Linked DNA regions of Homo sapiens: region 1 is linked to region 2. The links come from fine-mapping of genetic effects on gene expression. Tissue or cell type: hippocampus. Region 2 holds a variant in brackets; the other region holds the start of a gene. All regions are shown on one strand. Distances are from middle to middle.

Region 1 (8,100 bases), 190 kb before region 2:
CAGGGCAGAGAGACATAGAGGGTGAGGGGAGGGCCGGACTGAGGCCCCTGAAGGCTGAGTCTGGCCGGAGGCAGACAGGATGGTGACGCTACCCAAAGGGTCCAGCCCAACGAGGGAAACGTCCGGAATGACCCCTGCGGTCAAAGGCCTTCAGCCAGTGTCTGATCCCGATCAAAAACATCCCCTTCTACTTCTTCCTGGAAGCATCTGCTTCTTCTCCTGGCTCAGAAACACTTGCAGGCAGAGGCAGATACAAGTTTCATGGGGCCAGAGCTTAAACAATTCTGGGAAGCCCTCTTTACGTATACAAAACTAGACTACAAAACAAGTATTGCTTTAGACCGAGAAAGTACAGAGCTACACGTTAAAGTTAAAAAAGAACAATATCAGAAATATCACAAAATCCAGAAAACCAACACAATGTTTTCCTAACTGCCATGTGCGTCTCCTGAAATACGTCTTCCGGACAGTTCTGGTCCTGTACTCATCGCTTCTTCACACACAGGACAATGATTCTGCAACATTATTTTCCATATCAAGAACAGAAAGATAATGTCTCCCCTTTGCCATGACTCACTGATTTTTTATTACCGACAGTTTAAGGAAGTTTCTTTTAGCCTCAAAAAATCATAACTGAAGAAGTCGATCTTTAGAATTGTCAAATTTGGGAAAATATAAAGTTTTTTCATTTCTGAACTGAAACATTTGAGGGCATTTCAAGTTTTTCTTCTCATCACATATACCCCTTTGATAGATGACACACATTAAGCAGTCTGTGGCAACGCTATCTTTGCTTTTATATTTTAGGTAATGCTATCTTTGTCAGTGTCACTATTTCCTGACAAATCAGCAGGAAATATATAGCTTTTATCATTGTTTGATTCACTAATTGAATTATCGAGCAATCTAAAAACCTGTTTATTGTTTTTACTTGAAATTTTTTCTTCCTTTTAACGAAGTGCTGCTTTTGGCATGATCTGAAAATATTTTGTTACCATTTTTCCTGTTGATGTCAGAACAATTTTTATTGCTGTTATTCAACTTTAACACTTTTGTTTCATAGTCCATTAATACTTTTTTGAGATAGTCTCGCTCTGTCGCCCAAGGTGGAGTGCAATGGCGCCATCTCGGCTCACTGCAACCTTGACCTCCTGGGTTCAAGCGATTCTCGTGCCTCAGCCTCCCGAGTAGCTGGGATAACAGGCGCGTGCCACCATGCCTGGATAAATTTTATATTTTTAGTAGAGACGGGGTTTTGCCATGTTGGCCAAGCTAGCTATTCAGATTCTTTAATGAAAAGTCTAGGTTGGCATGTTTTTAATAGATGGCTTGGATAAAACCACATCCCTGTCTGCTCCTCTTCAGGGAGGACAGTACTCAGGAGGCCACGATGCCCATGATGGCACAGGGAAGGCCCTGTCAGAGGGCACAGCAGGACACACCAAACCTAGCAGTGGGGAGAGATTGGGAGAGGGTTCAAAGAAGGGTTCCCTTGGGGGGACCCTGGGAGCTCGGTCCCAGGGGACACGGAGAGTGAGGTGGAAAGGAGAAGAGCCCGCAGGAAGGAGGTGTACAGAGACCGGGCTGCACCTGCACCCGCCCGTTCAATGAGACGACCCACATAAGCCTGCCGAGCACAGCACAAGTGTTTCAAGTACACCAGCGAATATGACACACTGGCGCGCTGATGACACCCTGGCGCGCTGGCGGAAGAAAAGGTGCCGGTCCCTCGCTTTCTTCATCGGGCTTGCAGTAGCTTCGAGGTTAGCCACAGGGGCTGCCGACTGAACAGCTGGATCTAGGAGGCGGGTCCAGAACAGGAGCCCGAGATCCTTGAAGCCCACTGGGAGGGAACCCGAAGCTGAAGGGAACACTGAGTGTTTCTGGGAACAGAACAGTCTCTTCCACATGAAGAAACGTGGCCCAGGAGAAGCCTCCGTCTGCATCTGGCTATTAGCTGCTCACACTGAAAATCAGGATGATTCACAGAAAATGCTCTTGATAAACTGGACGACCTGGCAACACTGGGACCGCAATCCTGTAGGGCAACAGTCGGTGCCCCGAAGAGCACAGGCACTGAGCCCGAGCCAGCCGGGCTCCTGCAGTGCTGGGCGCAGGCCCTGGAGCATGAGGGGCCCCGGACACCACCTGCGGAGGGAGTGGCCTGTGGGCCTCCCCTGGATCCCACAGGCCGCACGACTCCAAGGGTGCCTGTCCAGCTTCATCCTGTGTGATGGTGGCACCCGGGCCCACAAAGGGCCACCTTGGCGAGCTTGCAGGAACACCCTGTGCCGCTACCCACAGCCTTGGGTGCGCAGCTCTGAGAGCAGCCAGGAGCAGGAAAGGTGGGGGAGGAGAAGCTGGGGGAATGGGGGTGCGGCCAGCTCCAGGGACCTCTGATCTTGCTAAAAGGGCGATACTTTGGTGAGATGGGCACGAAGAAGAGGGCAAAAGAAAACGTGCGCTGGCGTCACCTGGCCCCTTAGAGGCACCTGGGGAAACTGAGGTGGAGGATGAGGACAGGGCGGTCTCGCCAACTTTCGGCGGTGAGATCCCGGGAAGCTGCACGGCCCCCGGGGCTCGCGGGCGCCGAATCCGGGCAGAAGCCGCCGCCGGTCTCCACTTGGCCGCCCCAAGCCGACCTGAGGAGAGCCCGCCGAGGGCGCATTCGCCTCCCGCCAGCCCCTCGCCTCCCCGCCCCGGCCCCTCCGCGCCCGGCTCCCGGGTCCTGGCCTCGCGCCCCCGCCCCGCCGCGCGCTGGCGTGCGTGTCCGCCGCGACGCGCCGAGGCCGGGCCGGAACCGGACCCGCCCGCCGCCCGCCGCCAGCCCCGCCGCCAGCCCAGCCGCGGCGCCCACAGGCCCGGCCGCCCGCGCGCCTCTCACCCGTAAGGCCGCCGCCCCTGCCGTGGCCCCGGCGTCGCTGCAGCACGAAGAAGGGGTTGGCCCGCTCCGTCACCCACAGCGCATTGGCCACCAGCACCTCCTCCGGGCTCAGCCACATCGCGGAGCCGCTCGCACCGGGCCGAGGCCCGCGAGACGGAAGCGCCCGCCGCCGTCGGCGTCCCGGAGCGGAGCGTGCGGAGCGGAGCGTGCGGAGCGGGCCGGGGCGGGGCGGGGCCGGGCGGGCGGCGCCCCCTGGCGGGCGTGTGGCGCTCCCGCACGCGGCCCGAGTTCCGCGCCGCCCCCTCAGCCCCGGCCTCGGGCGCGCGCCAGCCTGGCCTCCTGGAGCGGTGCAGCCCACGGCCTCCGGCCTGGGTCCAGAACGGAACGGCCCAGTCCGCAGACAGGGGAGCCGCTGTGCAGAGCAGGGCTTCTGGCGTTTTGAAAGCTGTGCAGTGTGAGAGAAGGATGTCAAGAAGCAGAGTTTGGCGGCTTTTGGCTGGTTGCGCGTGCAACCCGGGGCGTGTTAGCACTGCAAAGGGCGCCTGGAAAGGGTTTGCAGTTCCTCCTAATTCTCAGCTTTCTTTTCTTTTTTTTTTTTCGACAGAGTCTTGCTGTGTCGCCCAGGCTGGAGTGCAGTGGCGCAATCTCAGCTCACTGCAACCTCTGCCTCCCGGGTTCAAGTGATTCTCCTGCCCCAGCCTCTTTAGCTGGGATTACAGGCTCCCGCCAACACGCCCGGCTAATTTTTTTGTATTTTTAGTAGAGACGGGGTTTCACCATGTTGGCCAGGCTGGTCTCGAACTCCTGACCTCGGGTGATCCGCCTACATTGGCCTCCCAAGTCCTGGGATTACAGGAGTGAACCATCGCGCCCGGCCAGTTCTCAGAATTCTGACACTGGGGCCGGGAGACTAGAAGAATCTTCCAGCGCAGGGCAGGTGCCAGGAGGCCCTGATACGGGCTGCATCCTTGGAAATCAGTGCTGCCCCTCCCCTGACAGACGGGTCACAGAGGCTGGCCGGCCCTGGGGATGGGGTCTGGACTGGCCCTGGGCCCAGTGGCGGCTTCTGCGCAAGTGTGAGGCTGGCTGCAGGCGAATGCGGGTCCCTGGTCTCCCAGTGTTGGCCTGCAGGGGCAGCGCCAGTCCACACACAGCCTTCTGCATGAGGGGGCTGTCAACTCCACCTGGGACAACGGGCCTGGGGCCTGTCCGGGGTCGACTGGGATGTGGGGTCACCCTGCTGGCTGGAACCCTCACCAGGGTCTGGCTAGAGGGCAAAGGGAAGGGGGCAGTTAAACCATCCTTGGAGCTGGACCTGACTTCCAGGTGGGTTTCTGTGATTGGCACTCAAGAATCTTGGTGCGATGGATGTAGGTACATGCAGTTGACACCCAGAGTGATCTGCAGTCTTCTTCAATGTTGCTGGATATAGGAATCAGCTTTCAAGATGCAGAGGCGGGCTTTCTTCAACACCTTGGAAGTCTGAACTAATATTGTCATTGTGCTCTCTAGAGGGAAAGAATTTGGAAGAACTGCACTTTTTAACACCCTGAGAGGAGGTAAAGAGTCGTCTTGTTCCTTAATCCCAGTGGTTCTCAAATTGGGTATACATTAGGATCACCTGGAAGGCTGATTCAAACAGGCTGCTGTAGTCCCAGCCACTTGGGAGGCTGAGGTGGTAGGATCACTTGAGGCCAGGAGTTCAAAATCGGCCAGGGCAATATAGCAAGACTCCATCTGAAAACAAAACAAAACAAAAAACAGCCACACAGGTTGCTGCCCCCTCCCTCCCAGGGTGTTTGCACTGCTAACTCGTTCCTAGGTGATGTTGATGCTGCTGACCTGGAGACCACTCCTCGAGAATGGTTTTTTATAAGAAGAAAAAGAACAAACATTTATCGATCACTTAGTATGTGCGTGCTAAGCTTACTTCTTTTTGATTTTCTGAGATATAAGTCACATTCCGTAACGTTCACTCTTTTAAAGTGCAAAACGTAGTGGTTTTTAGTATATTCACTAGGCTGGGCATCCATCATCACTAATTCCAGAACATTTTTATCAAGTCAAAAGAAACCCCTTACCCATTAGCTGCCATTCCCCACTTCCCCCCGGCTTTGCCCTGGCAACCATCAATCTATTTTGTCTCTATACATTTTTCCCATTCTAGCCATTTCTTCATATAAATGGAACCTTACAATATGTGGTCTTTTGTGTCTGTCTTCTTTCACTTCCCATCATGTGTTCGAGGTTCACCCACGTTGTAGCACGTATTGATGCTTCATTCCTCCTTATGGCTGAATAGTACCCCACGGTATGGATGCACCGCATTTTATTCATTTGGATGGACATTTGGATTGTTTACCCCTCGTCTATTATAAATAATGCTGCCATGAACATGTGTACAAGTCTTTGTGTGAATATGTGTTTTTAATTCTCTTGGGCATATATTGAGGAGTGGTATTGTTGGGTCATGTGGTACAGCTATGTTTAACTTTTTAAGCAGTGACCACACTGCGCTCCAAAGCAGCTGTAGCATTCCACATGCCCACCAGCTGGGTGTAAGAGTTCTAGGCAGGGCGCGGCGGCTCACGCCTGTAACCCCAGCACTTTGGGAGGCCGAGGTGGGCAGATCACAAGGTTAGGAGATCAAGACCATCCTGGCTAACACGGTGAAACCCCGTCTCTACTAAAAATACAAAAATTAGCCGGACGTGGTGGCATATGCTTGTCCCAGCTACTCGGGAGGCTGAGGCAGGAGAATTGCTTGAACCCGGGAGGTGGAGGTTGCAGTGAGCCGAGATCACGCCACTGCAACTTCAGCCTGGGCAGCAGAGTGAGACTCCGTCTCAAAAAAAAAAAAAAAAAAAAGAGTTCTAGTTTTTCCATATCTTGTCAACACTTGTTATTGTCTTTCTTTTTTTTTGATGCTCATTTCTAGAGGGTGGGAAATGGTATCTCGCTGTGGTTTGGATTTCCATTTCCCTGATGACTGATGATGGGCTTTTGGGTTATTTGTATATTTTATCTGGAGAAATGTCTATTTGGAGAAATGTCCTTTGCCCATTTAAAAAATTTTTTTATTTTTTTATTTTTGAGACGGAGTCTCACTCTGTCGCCCAGGCTGGAGTGCAGTGGCATGATCCTGGCTCACTGCAGCCTCTGCCTCCCAAGTTCAAGCGATTCTCCTGCCTCAGCCTCCCAAGTAGCTGGGAGTACAGGTGCGTGCCACCATGCCTGGCTAATTTTAGTATTTTTAGTAGAGAGGAGGTTTCACCATGTTAGCCAGGATGGTCTCGAAATCCTGACCTCAAGTGATCTGCCCGCCTCGGCCTCCCAAAGTGCTGGGATTACAGGCGTGAGCCACTGCACCCGGCCTCTGGCTCCAGTGCTTTTCCACACGTGTCAGACACGTGCTGCCTTTGCCCCCAGCATTCACTTCTCCCGTCTGTGCAGTGTCGTTTGTTTTTCTGCAGTGGGAACCGTGCCTTAGAACGCTCAGCTCTTGTCTGTCAGGTGAAGACACATGGACTCCTGGGCTGTGAAGGTGGAGCCCATGCCAGCTGAGGCCATCGGTGCATTCTATCTGTGATCACAGGGGCTGGCTGGTGATGGCCATGTGCCTCCAACCAAGTCAGTTGGGCCAGGGAAATACCGTCCTGACCTGGGCCACCTCCTGGGGACTGGCTCTTGTGTTGATGGAGCTACTGCCACCCTGAGCCTGGGGATGGGGTTCCCAATGAGGAGCAAAGTTGGCATGTGTCTTGGTGTCAGCATTTGAGGGTGAAATCACACCAAGCCTGACATAGGCACCCCTGGGCATTTTGGCTTTTGGGAGCCATGACATTCCCCTTTTGTGTTAGCCAGTTTTGGCTGGGTTTTCTGTCATTTGTAACCAAGAGAGTCCTCAGTGATACACGTCACCACCAACAATACTCCATGTGGTCAAATCAGCTTTTTCAATAGGTTTTTATTGAAATGGTTATATTAGCAAATTCTGCACATACGGGTGTACACTGTTGGCATATAGGTATATACCATACAATTTCACTACTTGATTATACTTACACCAACCATGCAGACCAAGGAGCTGTGCTGCCCAGAACATTTCAAAGGGTTGATGAGATCTGATTGTCAAGAACCAGCTCACACTCTACTTGTAGGTGTTTGTGTTCCAGACAAGAAAACTCCCCCGACAGGGAGGCCCGAAACTGAGCTAATCGTCAGTTTTGCTTCTTGAATATTGACTGTTCTTTCTGGCACAAGCTATCCAATGAATTAAATTAAAATTTTAATTAAAATTCAAGTGCATAGTTTCCTTTTCATCCCTCAAGGTGGAAGATAAATCATTTGCCACATTTAGGTATATCCCAAGCCTCCCCACCCCCACATTACCTGTGCTATAGTTAGAAAAATAGTTTTGTACGCCATCTTCTGAGATGTTGTGCATAGTGAGCAGGAACCTAGAGTACGGTGGGCTCTTTCAATGACCCAAATATGAAAGGGGCAACTTTAATATTTTATGAGTATAAAAGCTACGGAGGGTCCAAAACAACTGTGACATATGTGGCCTAGGGCTTGCACCAGCTCCTCCTCCTGTACAGGAACAGGATGCTTCCATCAGGTGAGAATGTTCTCCATACCTCAAATCTCATTTCCTAGCTTGGAGCCTTTTCCTGTTTTTGTAATCACACGGGACAAGTTTTCTTTTTAGACAGAGTTATTGCCTCTCTGCAGCAGATCTGGTCCCAAGCCCCAGTCAGGAGATCCCCTCCTGCAGCTGGCTCAGCAAGCCAGGCCCAGGCTGTCTGGAGAACGCCTGGAGACAGCACCCTCTCTGCTTCTCTCCAGGATGGCATGTGTCATCTCAGGCTGGGCACTCAGCAGAGGTGCCAGGACCTGGACCTGGGCCACACCTACTGGCCCAGTCCACAGAGCACAGCCAGCAATCCGCAGCCTTTCTGCTGAAGGAGCGCTTACTCGCCTGAAGGAAGAGAAATGGCCAGGACGGTATATTCTACCTAACCACCTCACCCCACCGTTTCTTTACAAACATCTTGGTTCAGTACCTCCCAGTCATTGGAGAAGTCCTTTAATATCACATAGTGTAAATATACTTGCACTTAATTGGAGATAAAGGCTGTTCCAAAAGCAAATTTGAATTCACTCTGTGTTGGGTTGAATTTGTAAACCACAGCTCAGAACCAGTCTGTGACGCT
Region 2 (8,100 bases):
TTGATTTAAACCAAACTGTGCTCTAAATTGCTGTGTTTCATTTATGTTTCTTTTCTTTCTTTTTTTTTGAGACAGGGTCTTACTCTGCTACACATGCTGGAATGCAGTGACGCAATCATAGCTCACTGCAGCCTCGACCTCCTGGGCTCAAGCAATCCTCCCACCTCAGCTTCCCGAGTGACTGGGAGCACAGGTATGTACCATTACCACCACGCCTGGCTAATTTTTAAATTTTCTGTAGAGATGGGGTCTATGTTGCCCAGGTTGGTCTCGAACATCTGGGCTCAAGTGATTTACCCACCTTGGCCTCCCAAAGTGCTGGGATTACAGGTGTGAGCTACCATACCTGGCCTTCGTTTATATTTTCATACAGAAGGGTAAATCATTTAAATAGTGGGGTGCAACTGTCCACAAAAGCAATAGGAGTAATTCATTGAGAAGCTTTCTGCCCCCATGAGGCACCAGTCTTCCTTCCTTCCTTCCCTCCCTTCCTTGCTGTCTTCCTTCCTTCTTTCCTTCCTTCCCTCCTTCCTTCCTCCCTTCCTGTCTTCCTTCCCTCCCTCCCTCCCTTCCTTCCTGTCTTCCTCCCTTCCTTCCCTCCTTCCCTCCCTCCCTTCCTTCCTGTCTTCCTTCCTTCCTTCCTGTCTTCCTTCCCTCCCTCCCTCCCTTCCTTCCTGTCTTCCTCCCTTCCTTCCCTCCTTCCTTCCCTCCCTCCCTTCCTCCCTCCCTCCCTCCCTTCCTCCCTTCCTGTCTTCCTTCCCTCCCTCCCTCCCTTCCTTCCTGTCTTCCTTCCCTCCCTCCCTCCCTCCCTTCCTTCCTTTTTTTTTGGGACGGCATCTTGCTCTGTCCCCAGGCTGGAGTGCAGCGGCACAATCTTGGCTCACTGCAACCTCCGCCTCCCAGGTTCCAGTGATTCTCCCACCTCCGCCTTCTGAGTAGCTGTGATTACAGGCACGCGCCACCATACCCAGCTAATTTTTTGTATTTTTTAGTCGAGACAAGTTTTCACCATGTTGGCCAGGCTGGTCTTGAACTCCTGACCTCAAGTGATCCACCCGCCTTGGCCTCCCCAAGTGCTGGGATTACAGGTGTGAGCCACCGCGCCCAGTGGGTGCACTAGTCTTATTGTCCCACCAAGCCCCTGGCTGTCAGCCCATCCTGCATAGGGCCAGGAGCACACACCCATCTCCCTCTGAGGCTGCAAGAAAGGGTTCGGGCTCCTGCTGGTTGAGGGCCTTCGACTGGGCTCTCCAGGTGCTGGGCTGGGCTGAGGAGCAAACCCACGTGCTGGTACAGGAGCAGGATGATGGAGGCCGCTCGTGACATCTCCATTATGCAAATACTATGCTGGTCTCAGGTTTTTTCGCTGAGTTTAGGTTGTAAAAGTGGAAGTGTTGGGTCAAAAGCGATCAGAGATCTTTTTAAAACTGACCATGTTACTGCCACCCCCAGAACTCTTCACTGGCTCCCCTAGAGCCTTTGGGGTAAACGTCAAGCTCCTTGGTCTGTCCTGTGGGGTTCTTTACCGTTGGCCTCTGCTGCTCTTTCCTGCCATTGCTCTCTGCCCCGACATGTGGGATTTCCGTCTCCTCCTTGCTGAACTGCTGTCAGCTTGCCCACTTGGTAAAGGTCTGTTGGTCTGTAGTGGGGGTAGCTTATGCCTTAGATCCCTTCATTCCACTTAAACTTCCCATCTCTTCGGTCCTACCTGGAGGCGCAGGGTGGGATGCTGAAGAGGACGGTGTCAGGCACCCCGCCCAGCCACAGGCAAGGGCCCCACTGTGGTTGAGGAGCCTCTCGTCAGGCCTTTCGAGGTTTTCCTATTGGATCCATCTCCTGGCCTAGGGCCCCAGGACCCCAACCTGAGTCCTGGGGAGTTAAAATGGTGCCTTTTCACTGAAGACTCTGTGTAGTGGGCCATGAGCCACATGGCCTGGATGCCTGGGGATGGAGGGTGGCGTGATAGGGAGTGAGGCCTGCTTTTCTCTATGGCTGGGTATGAGGCATGGCTTTACCCAGCAGGGCCTGCAGAGGGCCGGGGCAGGTGCAGGAGGGGAGCTGGGCTGTGGCAGATTTTGTCTTGAGCATGAATGAGACAGTGCAGGGTCCTCCTGAAACACCAGGGGACACAGGGGGCTCAGGGACCTGCAAAAGAGGAGGAGGCAGGAGCAGAGGAAAGATGCATGTCACCTTGAGTGTGACTATGGGAAGCCCCGGTGGCCAGCAGAAGCCCCTCTGCCCCACACCATGGTTAGGAGCAGAGCTGTGGAGGTGACAGACCCTGCAGTCCCCGCCTCTCCATGCTGTTGTCCATGAGCAGTTGCTTAGCCTTTCTGAGCCTCTGTTCCCCACTTGCCAAGGGGGATGGTGACAGCACCTAGCTGGCGGGGTTTGTTAGGCTGTAGGTGAAGTGCTGGCCTGAGGCTCGGTGTCACGGGGAAGCGTTTGAGTTTCCAGGTGTGAAGTATGAGCTTCCAGCTGAGGCACATCCCAAATGGGGCTCTTGACTGAGATCCCAGCTGCTCACCTCCTTGACCCATGGGTGGGTGAGTCAGTGGTCGGGAGCTAGAAACTGGGGAGGGCATTGCTCAGAGGGTGCTGTGGGTACATGGGGGCACTTCCAAGGGGTGAGGGGGTTGCCCCTCCTGGAGAACCACTCAGGAGCCCTGCAGGGTTGGGAGATGCAGAGGCTTGAGGTCTGATGCCTGCCTGAGGGATGTGAAGGATGAGGGGCCATGTCAGCGTTTGTTTATCTGTTCCTGAGTTGTTAGGGAAGAGACTGTGACAGTCCCTGGGGCAGCCCTACTCACACCTCTGAGGTTATCTGGGGTTCTGCTCTGGGGGCTGCATGGACTTTGCGGAGGGCTGGATGCGGCTGGGTTCCCAGGCTAAGTTGCTGGCCACGATGGAGATGCCTGCTCTGGTCTAATGCTGGTGACCCCCACATTCCCATGTTGAAGCAGAATCCCCAGTGTGAGGGTATTAAGAGGTGGGGTCTTTTGGGGAGTGGGTAAGTCATGGGGGTGGTGCCCTTGTGAATGGGCTTAGCGCCCTCATAAGAGGGGCTGGAGGCAGCTGCATCCCCCTTCCGTGTGAGGGCACCCAGGCGGCACTACCTGTGAGGGGCCAGACACTGAATCAGCCGGTGCCGTCATCTTGGACTTCCCAGCCCTCAGAACTGTGAGCAACGCATTCCCGTTGTGTATGAATTACCAGCCTCTGGTATTGTTACAGCAGCCAGAACCAAGACACCATTTCCCAAGGAACTGCTTGGGGTGGGCAGCAGTGCCCAGTGATGCAGTGATGGGGGGCAGGGATTTCAGAGAACCGAGGGGTCCCCCATGTGAGAATGAATCAATATGGAACCCCAGCCAGGCCCAGGGCCTCTGAGGCAAGCCCCAGTCAGGGAAGAATCTTCCGGTCTGCAGGCTCCATGCCACCCCAGCTCCCTCCCTGGAGAAGAAGCCCAGGCGGTGAAGGAGAGCCCATGGCCAGGCCCTGCCTCATGCCTGCGGTTCGACTGAGTGGTGTTAGGGATTCGCAGTGGTGTTAGGGGTTCGCATCACCTGGTGCCACGCCGAGCTCACAGGCATTAGTCCTGGGCACCACCTGCGCTGCTGACACCTGCCCCACAGGCACAGGCCCTGCCCTGTGGAGCCCCTGGGGGCCGTCCCATCTGGCTGGCCATGACGCTGGAGCCAGGACTACAGGAGGACAAAGACGCCTCTGCAGGGAAGGGCCATGAGCCAAGGAGCAGACCGTGTGGCTGTGAGCAAGGCCTCCCTGGGCTCCGAGGCTGCACCTGGAGAAGCCACACCATGTCTGGGTGGGTCCTCTGAGGGAGCTCACGCCCTCTGGCTGCACCAGGGCCTGGCACACAGCAGCTGCTCAGAGGGGTGCAGAGCCAGGTTGAAGGCCCCCTGGAGGATCCTGAGGCACAAATGTGCTCAGCCTGAGCCCCCAGCCCTGCCTTCTCCACGGGGCTGGCTGTGGGCTGCCTCC[T/G]TCCCTGCTGCCCCAGAGCCTCCCCTGCTGGGGTGAGCCTCGGGGCACCCAGCTTCACCTGGCCATCCTCCTGATACCCATCCTGCGCTGGGCCACTGGGGGCTGCTGCCAGGAACGGCTTCTGGGAGATGGGCCCTGCACCTGAGGCTGCAGCTCTGACTGGATCGACAAGGTGGGGAACAGCATGTCAGGCAGTGGGAACAGCATACTGGTGTGGCCAGGAGGCAGGGACGATCCCCGCTGACCTCTGGAGGGGGCTTTTCTCATGTTGCCCAAGGGGTGCCAGGGACTGAGGGTGCCAGGTAGGGATGAGGGTGAGACGATGGCTCTAACCAGCTCCTGGAACCCCCCAAACTCCTGGGGTTTGGCCCCCAGGGCTCTGCCCAGGCCCTGCGGGAGCCCTGCCCCCACCTCTCCACACTGCTTGCCGTCCCTGGGGTCTCAGATGGAAGAGGTGGGCTGGGGCGGTGCAGGGCAGATTCTGCTTGGCCCCGATGTGCAGGCCCCATGCCTCTGCCGGGCCCTTCTGGGGCCTTGCTGTGGTCCTGGCTCACCAGGCAGAATCCCTGAGTTGGCTGAGGCACCGGCTGCTGGTGGCCCTGTCTCTGCCCGTTCCCCAGATAGGACCCAAGTCCAGGACAGCCAAGTCTGATACTGAGTGGGACTCCACCGCTGAGGGGCCTGACATGGCCTAGAGCAGGCCAGGGGTGGGTCAGTGCACCCCAGCGCTCCCTCCTCAACCCATCCGCCACCCAGCAGGCCCTGACCAGCAAAGGGGGTACAAATTGCACTCCCTGACTTCCTGGCTAGATGACCTTGTCACGTGTCAGGTGGGGTCTCGGCTGCTCCCCGGCCCACTGCTTGCTGGCTCAGTTTTTGAGGGGCTGGAAACAGACAGGGTGGGGCTGTGGGAGGGGCCTGCTGGTGGGCCAAGGGGGTTTTGTTGGCTTCCTCATGCCCTGCTCTAGACAAGGGGCACCAGGCAAGGCTGTGGGTATCCCTCACCAAAGGTTAACTGAGCATCCCCCACGCACCAGGCTCTGTAAGCACGACACGGGGTCTCTGGATGGGAAACAGTTACCCAGTCCCATGCCTGAACTGTGGCTACAGCAGTCCCCGGGCTGAGTTGAAAACCTGCCATGGGGTGGACGTGGGGTGGACATGGATAGGCGTACGGGTGTGTTTATAGTGACTAGAGTTTACAAGGGGGCTGGGTGGCGGGACTGCCGTGTACACACTGTAACTCCATGTGTCCAGTTTGTCCTGTTGACGCGTTCCACAGCTGTCACCGGAAAGCTATCTCCTGGGGCCAGCAGCATCCAGGAAGGGGGTACCTGGGGCTGCAGAGACAAGCTCGTCGGCAGGGCAGGGTGAGGGACCATGGGTGGAATGGCAGTGGCTGCCAGTGGGCTCGGGGCTGGCGCAGGCATCTCACGTCGCACCGTGATGCCTGCTGTGGCTCCAGAAGTTCCCAAGCCACGTGGTGACAGACTGTGGGTGGTGGCCAAAGTGGCACATGTCACCAAGCAAGGTCTCGAGCTTGCAGTGGTCCCACCCTCTGGGGCAGTGTTGTGTCCTTGCCGAGGATGGACAGACTGACCAGGCCCCACGGTCCTGAAGGCAGGATGTCCCCAAGGCATGTGCCGCCCGCACGTCTGGAGGCCCTGGGTCCTGCCAGGGCCAAAGTCCCATAAAAGGTCTCCTGTGCCCGTATGGCCACTGTGGGGGGGGGGGGGGCGGGCAGCAGGCCACAGGGTCGGCATTTGCAAAATAGTGAGGCACTCCCTGGCCTCTGCCCACTGGGCCACTGAGGCAGGGCTGTGGACGGCTTCTGCGGGCTCCAGCTCTTCCTCGTCCCTCAGCTCAGCGCTTTCATGTCTTCCCCAAAATAGAAGATCTGCAGATTTAAGCATGTCGGGAGCGGTGAGAGCCTGGAGCTCCCCACCCCAGTTAGACTGCTCTCCAGCACAGCCACTTTCTCAGTGCGCTGAGGAGAGCCAGCCTCCTGCCCCAGAGGGGTGTTCTGCAAATCCCTGGGGCTCAGCCCTCGAAGTCCATTGCTATGGATCATTTCCGACCGCCACTTGGACGTGTTAACACGCCGAGCAAGAAGGAGGTGGGGTGTGTGTCCCACTGTCTGGCATACAAATATAGACTGGGAGTCCCTGTCCCTGGGACATGCATCTTGACTGCACACAGAGGCAGCCACCAGCCGTGGGGGAGTCACAGGCTCAGCCTCCTCTCCTCACCCCTATGACTGTGGCTTGATCCCCACTGTGGGCTGCTGAGGCTCCCAGGAGGCTGGTGAGCCGGGTATCTCTGAAGCCCCTCGGCCCTGTCCTGGTCCCAAGCAGTCCCCGGGTCCCACCTCGGCGCGAAGACTCACCTTAGAGCTTTCCATCCCAAGCAGCCCCCAGGCCCCACCTTGGCAGGAAGACTCACCTTAGAGCTTTCCATCTTTCTTTTTCTGTTTGGTTCTCTGGGCTCTCACTTTCGTAAGAAGCCAAATAAAGACCTAGACAGAAAATGAAGTGAAATTTCACAATTATGGTTGATGATAATAACCTGTTCTACACCTGCTATATCTGCGTGGGTCTCTTTCTGGGTTCTCTATTCTGTCCCATTGATCCATGTGTCCATCCCTCCCCTAATACTGTGCTGTCTTAACGACAGTAGTTCTATAACATTTGCGTGAGGGCTTTTGCTTTTGTGTGAAACTCACTTCAAATGATGTATAAATACATGAGTCTTTATTTCTCTGGAATAACTAACTGCCCAAGAATGCAATGGCTGGGCCATATCATAGTGGCATATTTGGAATAAGAAACTCTTTATCTAGCCCTATATTCTGAGGGTTATCTCTTGCTTTTCCCTGCTAAAAGCTGTATAGGTTTACATTTTACATTTTAGTCTGTGATCCATGCTGAGCTAATTATTTGTATAAGGTGTGAGGCTTGGGCTGGGGTTCATGTTTTGGTCTGTGGATGTCCGGATGCTCCGGCACTGTTTGTTGGAGGGCTAGCTTTCCTCCATTGGGTTTTGTTTTGTTTTGTTTTGTTTTTGTCAAAAATCACCTGGTATATTTGCGTGGGTCTCTTTCTGGGTTCTCTATTCTGTCCCATTGATTCATGCGTCCATCCCTCCCCTAATACTGTGCTGTCTTAACGACCATAGCGCTATCATATCAGCCTTAACATCAAGCAGACTCATTCCTCCCACGAATCCTTTTCAAGATTGTTTTAGCAATTCTAGTTCCTTTGACTTCCGATACAAATTTTAGGAGAATCTCGTCTCTATCTTACAAAGAGTCTTGCTGGGATTTGGGTAGGAATTGCATTAAACCTGTACTTAAATTCTGGGAGGAGAATTAATACCTTTGCTATGCAGTCTTTGCGTTCGAGAACATCCTATGTCTCCATTTATCTACATCTTTCTTGATTTCTTTCATCAGCATTAACTTTTTTTTGAGACAGAAGTCTCGCTCTGTCGCCCAGGCTGGAGTGCAGTGGCGCGATCTCGGCTCACTGCAAGCTCTGCCTCCCGGGTTCACACCATTCTCCTGCCTCACCCTCCCGAGTGGCTGGGACTACAGGTACCCACCACCACGCCCGGCTAATGTTTTGTATTTTTAGTAGAGATGGGGTTTCACCGTGTTAGCCAGGATGGTCTCGATCTCCTGACCTTGTGATCCGCCCGCCTCGGCCTCCCAGAGTGCTGAGATTACAGGCGTGAGCCACCGCACCCGGCACATCAGCATTAACTTTTAGCGTACACGTCCTGTGCGTGTTCTGTTCCATTTCCACCTACATATTTCATGTGAGTGACTGTAAATGGTATTATCATTTTAGTTTCAGCGTGCACATGTTTATTGCTCATACGTAGAAACATGGTTGATTTTTGCATGTGTGTCTTGTATCCTGCAACCTTGCTGAACTCCCTTATTAGTTCTAGGGGTTTTTGTAGATTCTTTGGGATTTTTTTTCCTCATCATCTGCAAATAGGGACAGTGTTAATTTTTCTTTCTGATTTGTGTGTTACTTCCTGTTCTTGCCTTATCGCACTAACTAGTTCTTCCATTACTATGATGACTAAGAGTGG

The links. PIP is the estimated chance that this variant, and not a neighbour inherited with it, causes the effect.
Region 1: it holds the start of TBC1D9B, and the variant in region 2 is fine-mapped to the expression of TBC1D9B in hippocampus (GTEx, PIP above 0.99).

The regions. Positions count from the first base shown.
Region 1 is chr5:179,904,820-179,912,919 of GRCh38, forward strand. TBC1D9B (TBC1 domain family member 9B) reads right to left here and starts at 3,078. Exons shown (of 21, transcript NM_015043.4): 1 at 2,885-3,078. The coding sequence starts at 3,002. It also overlaps a transcript of RNF130 not described here. RefSeq lists an enhancer at 2,032-2,809 and silencers at 2,690-2,739, 2,790-2,929, 2,940-2,999, 3,070-3,229.
Region 2 is chr5:180,095,627-180,103,726 of GRCh38, forward strand. It overlaps RASGEF1C (RasGEF domain family member 1C), which reads right to left. Exons shown (of 14, transcript NM_175062.4): 13 at 6,445-6,517; 14 at 5,169-5,899. The coding sequence ends at 5,875. Among named protein-coding and RNA genes, the nearest start is that of RNF130, 28 kb to the left of the region's middle. The variant T/G (reference allele first, on the strand shown) is at 4,003.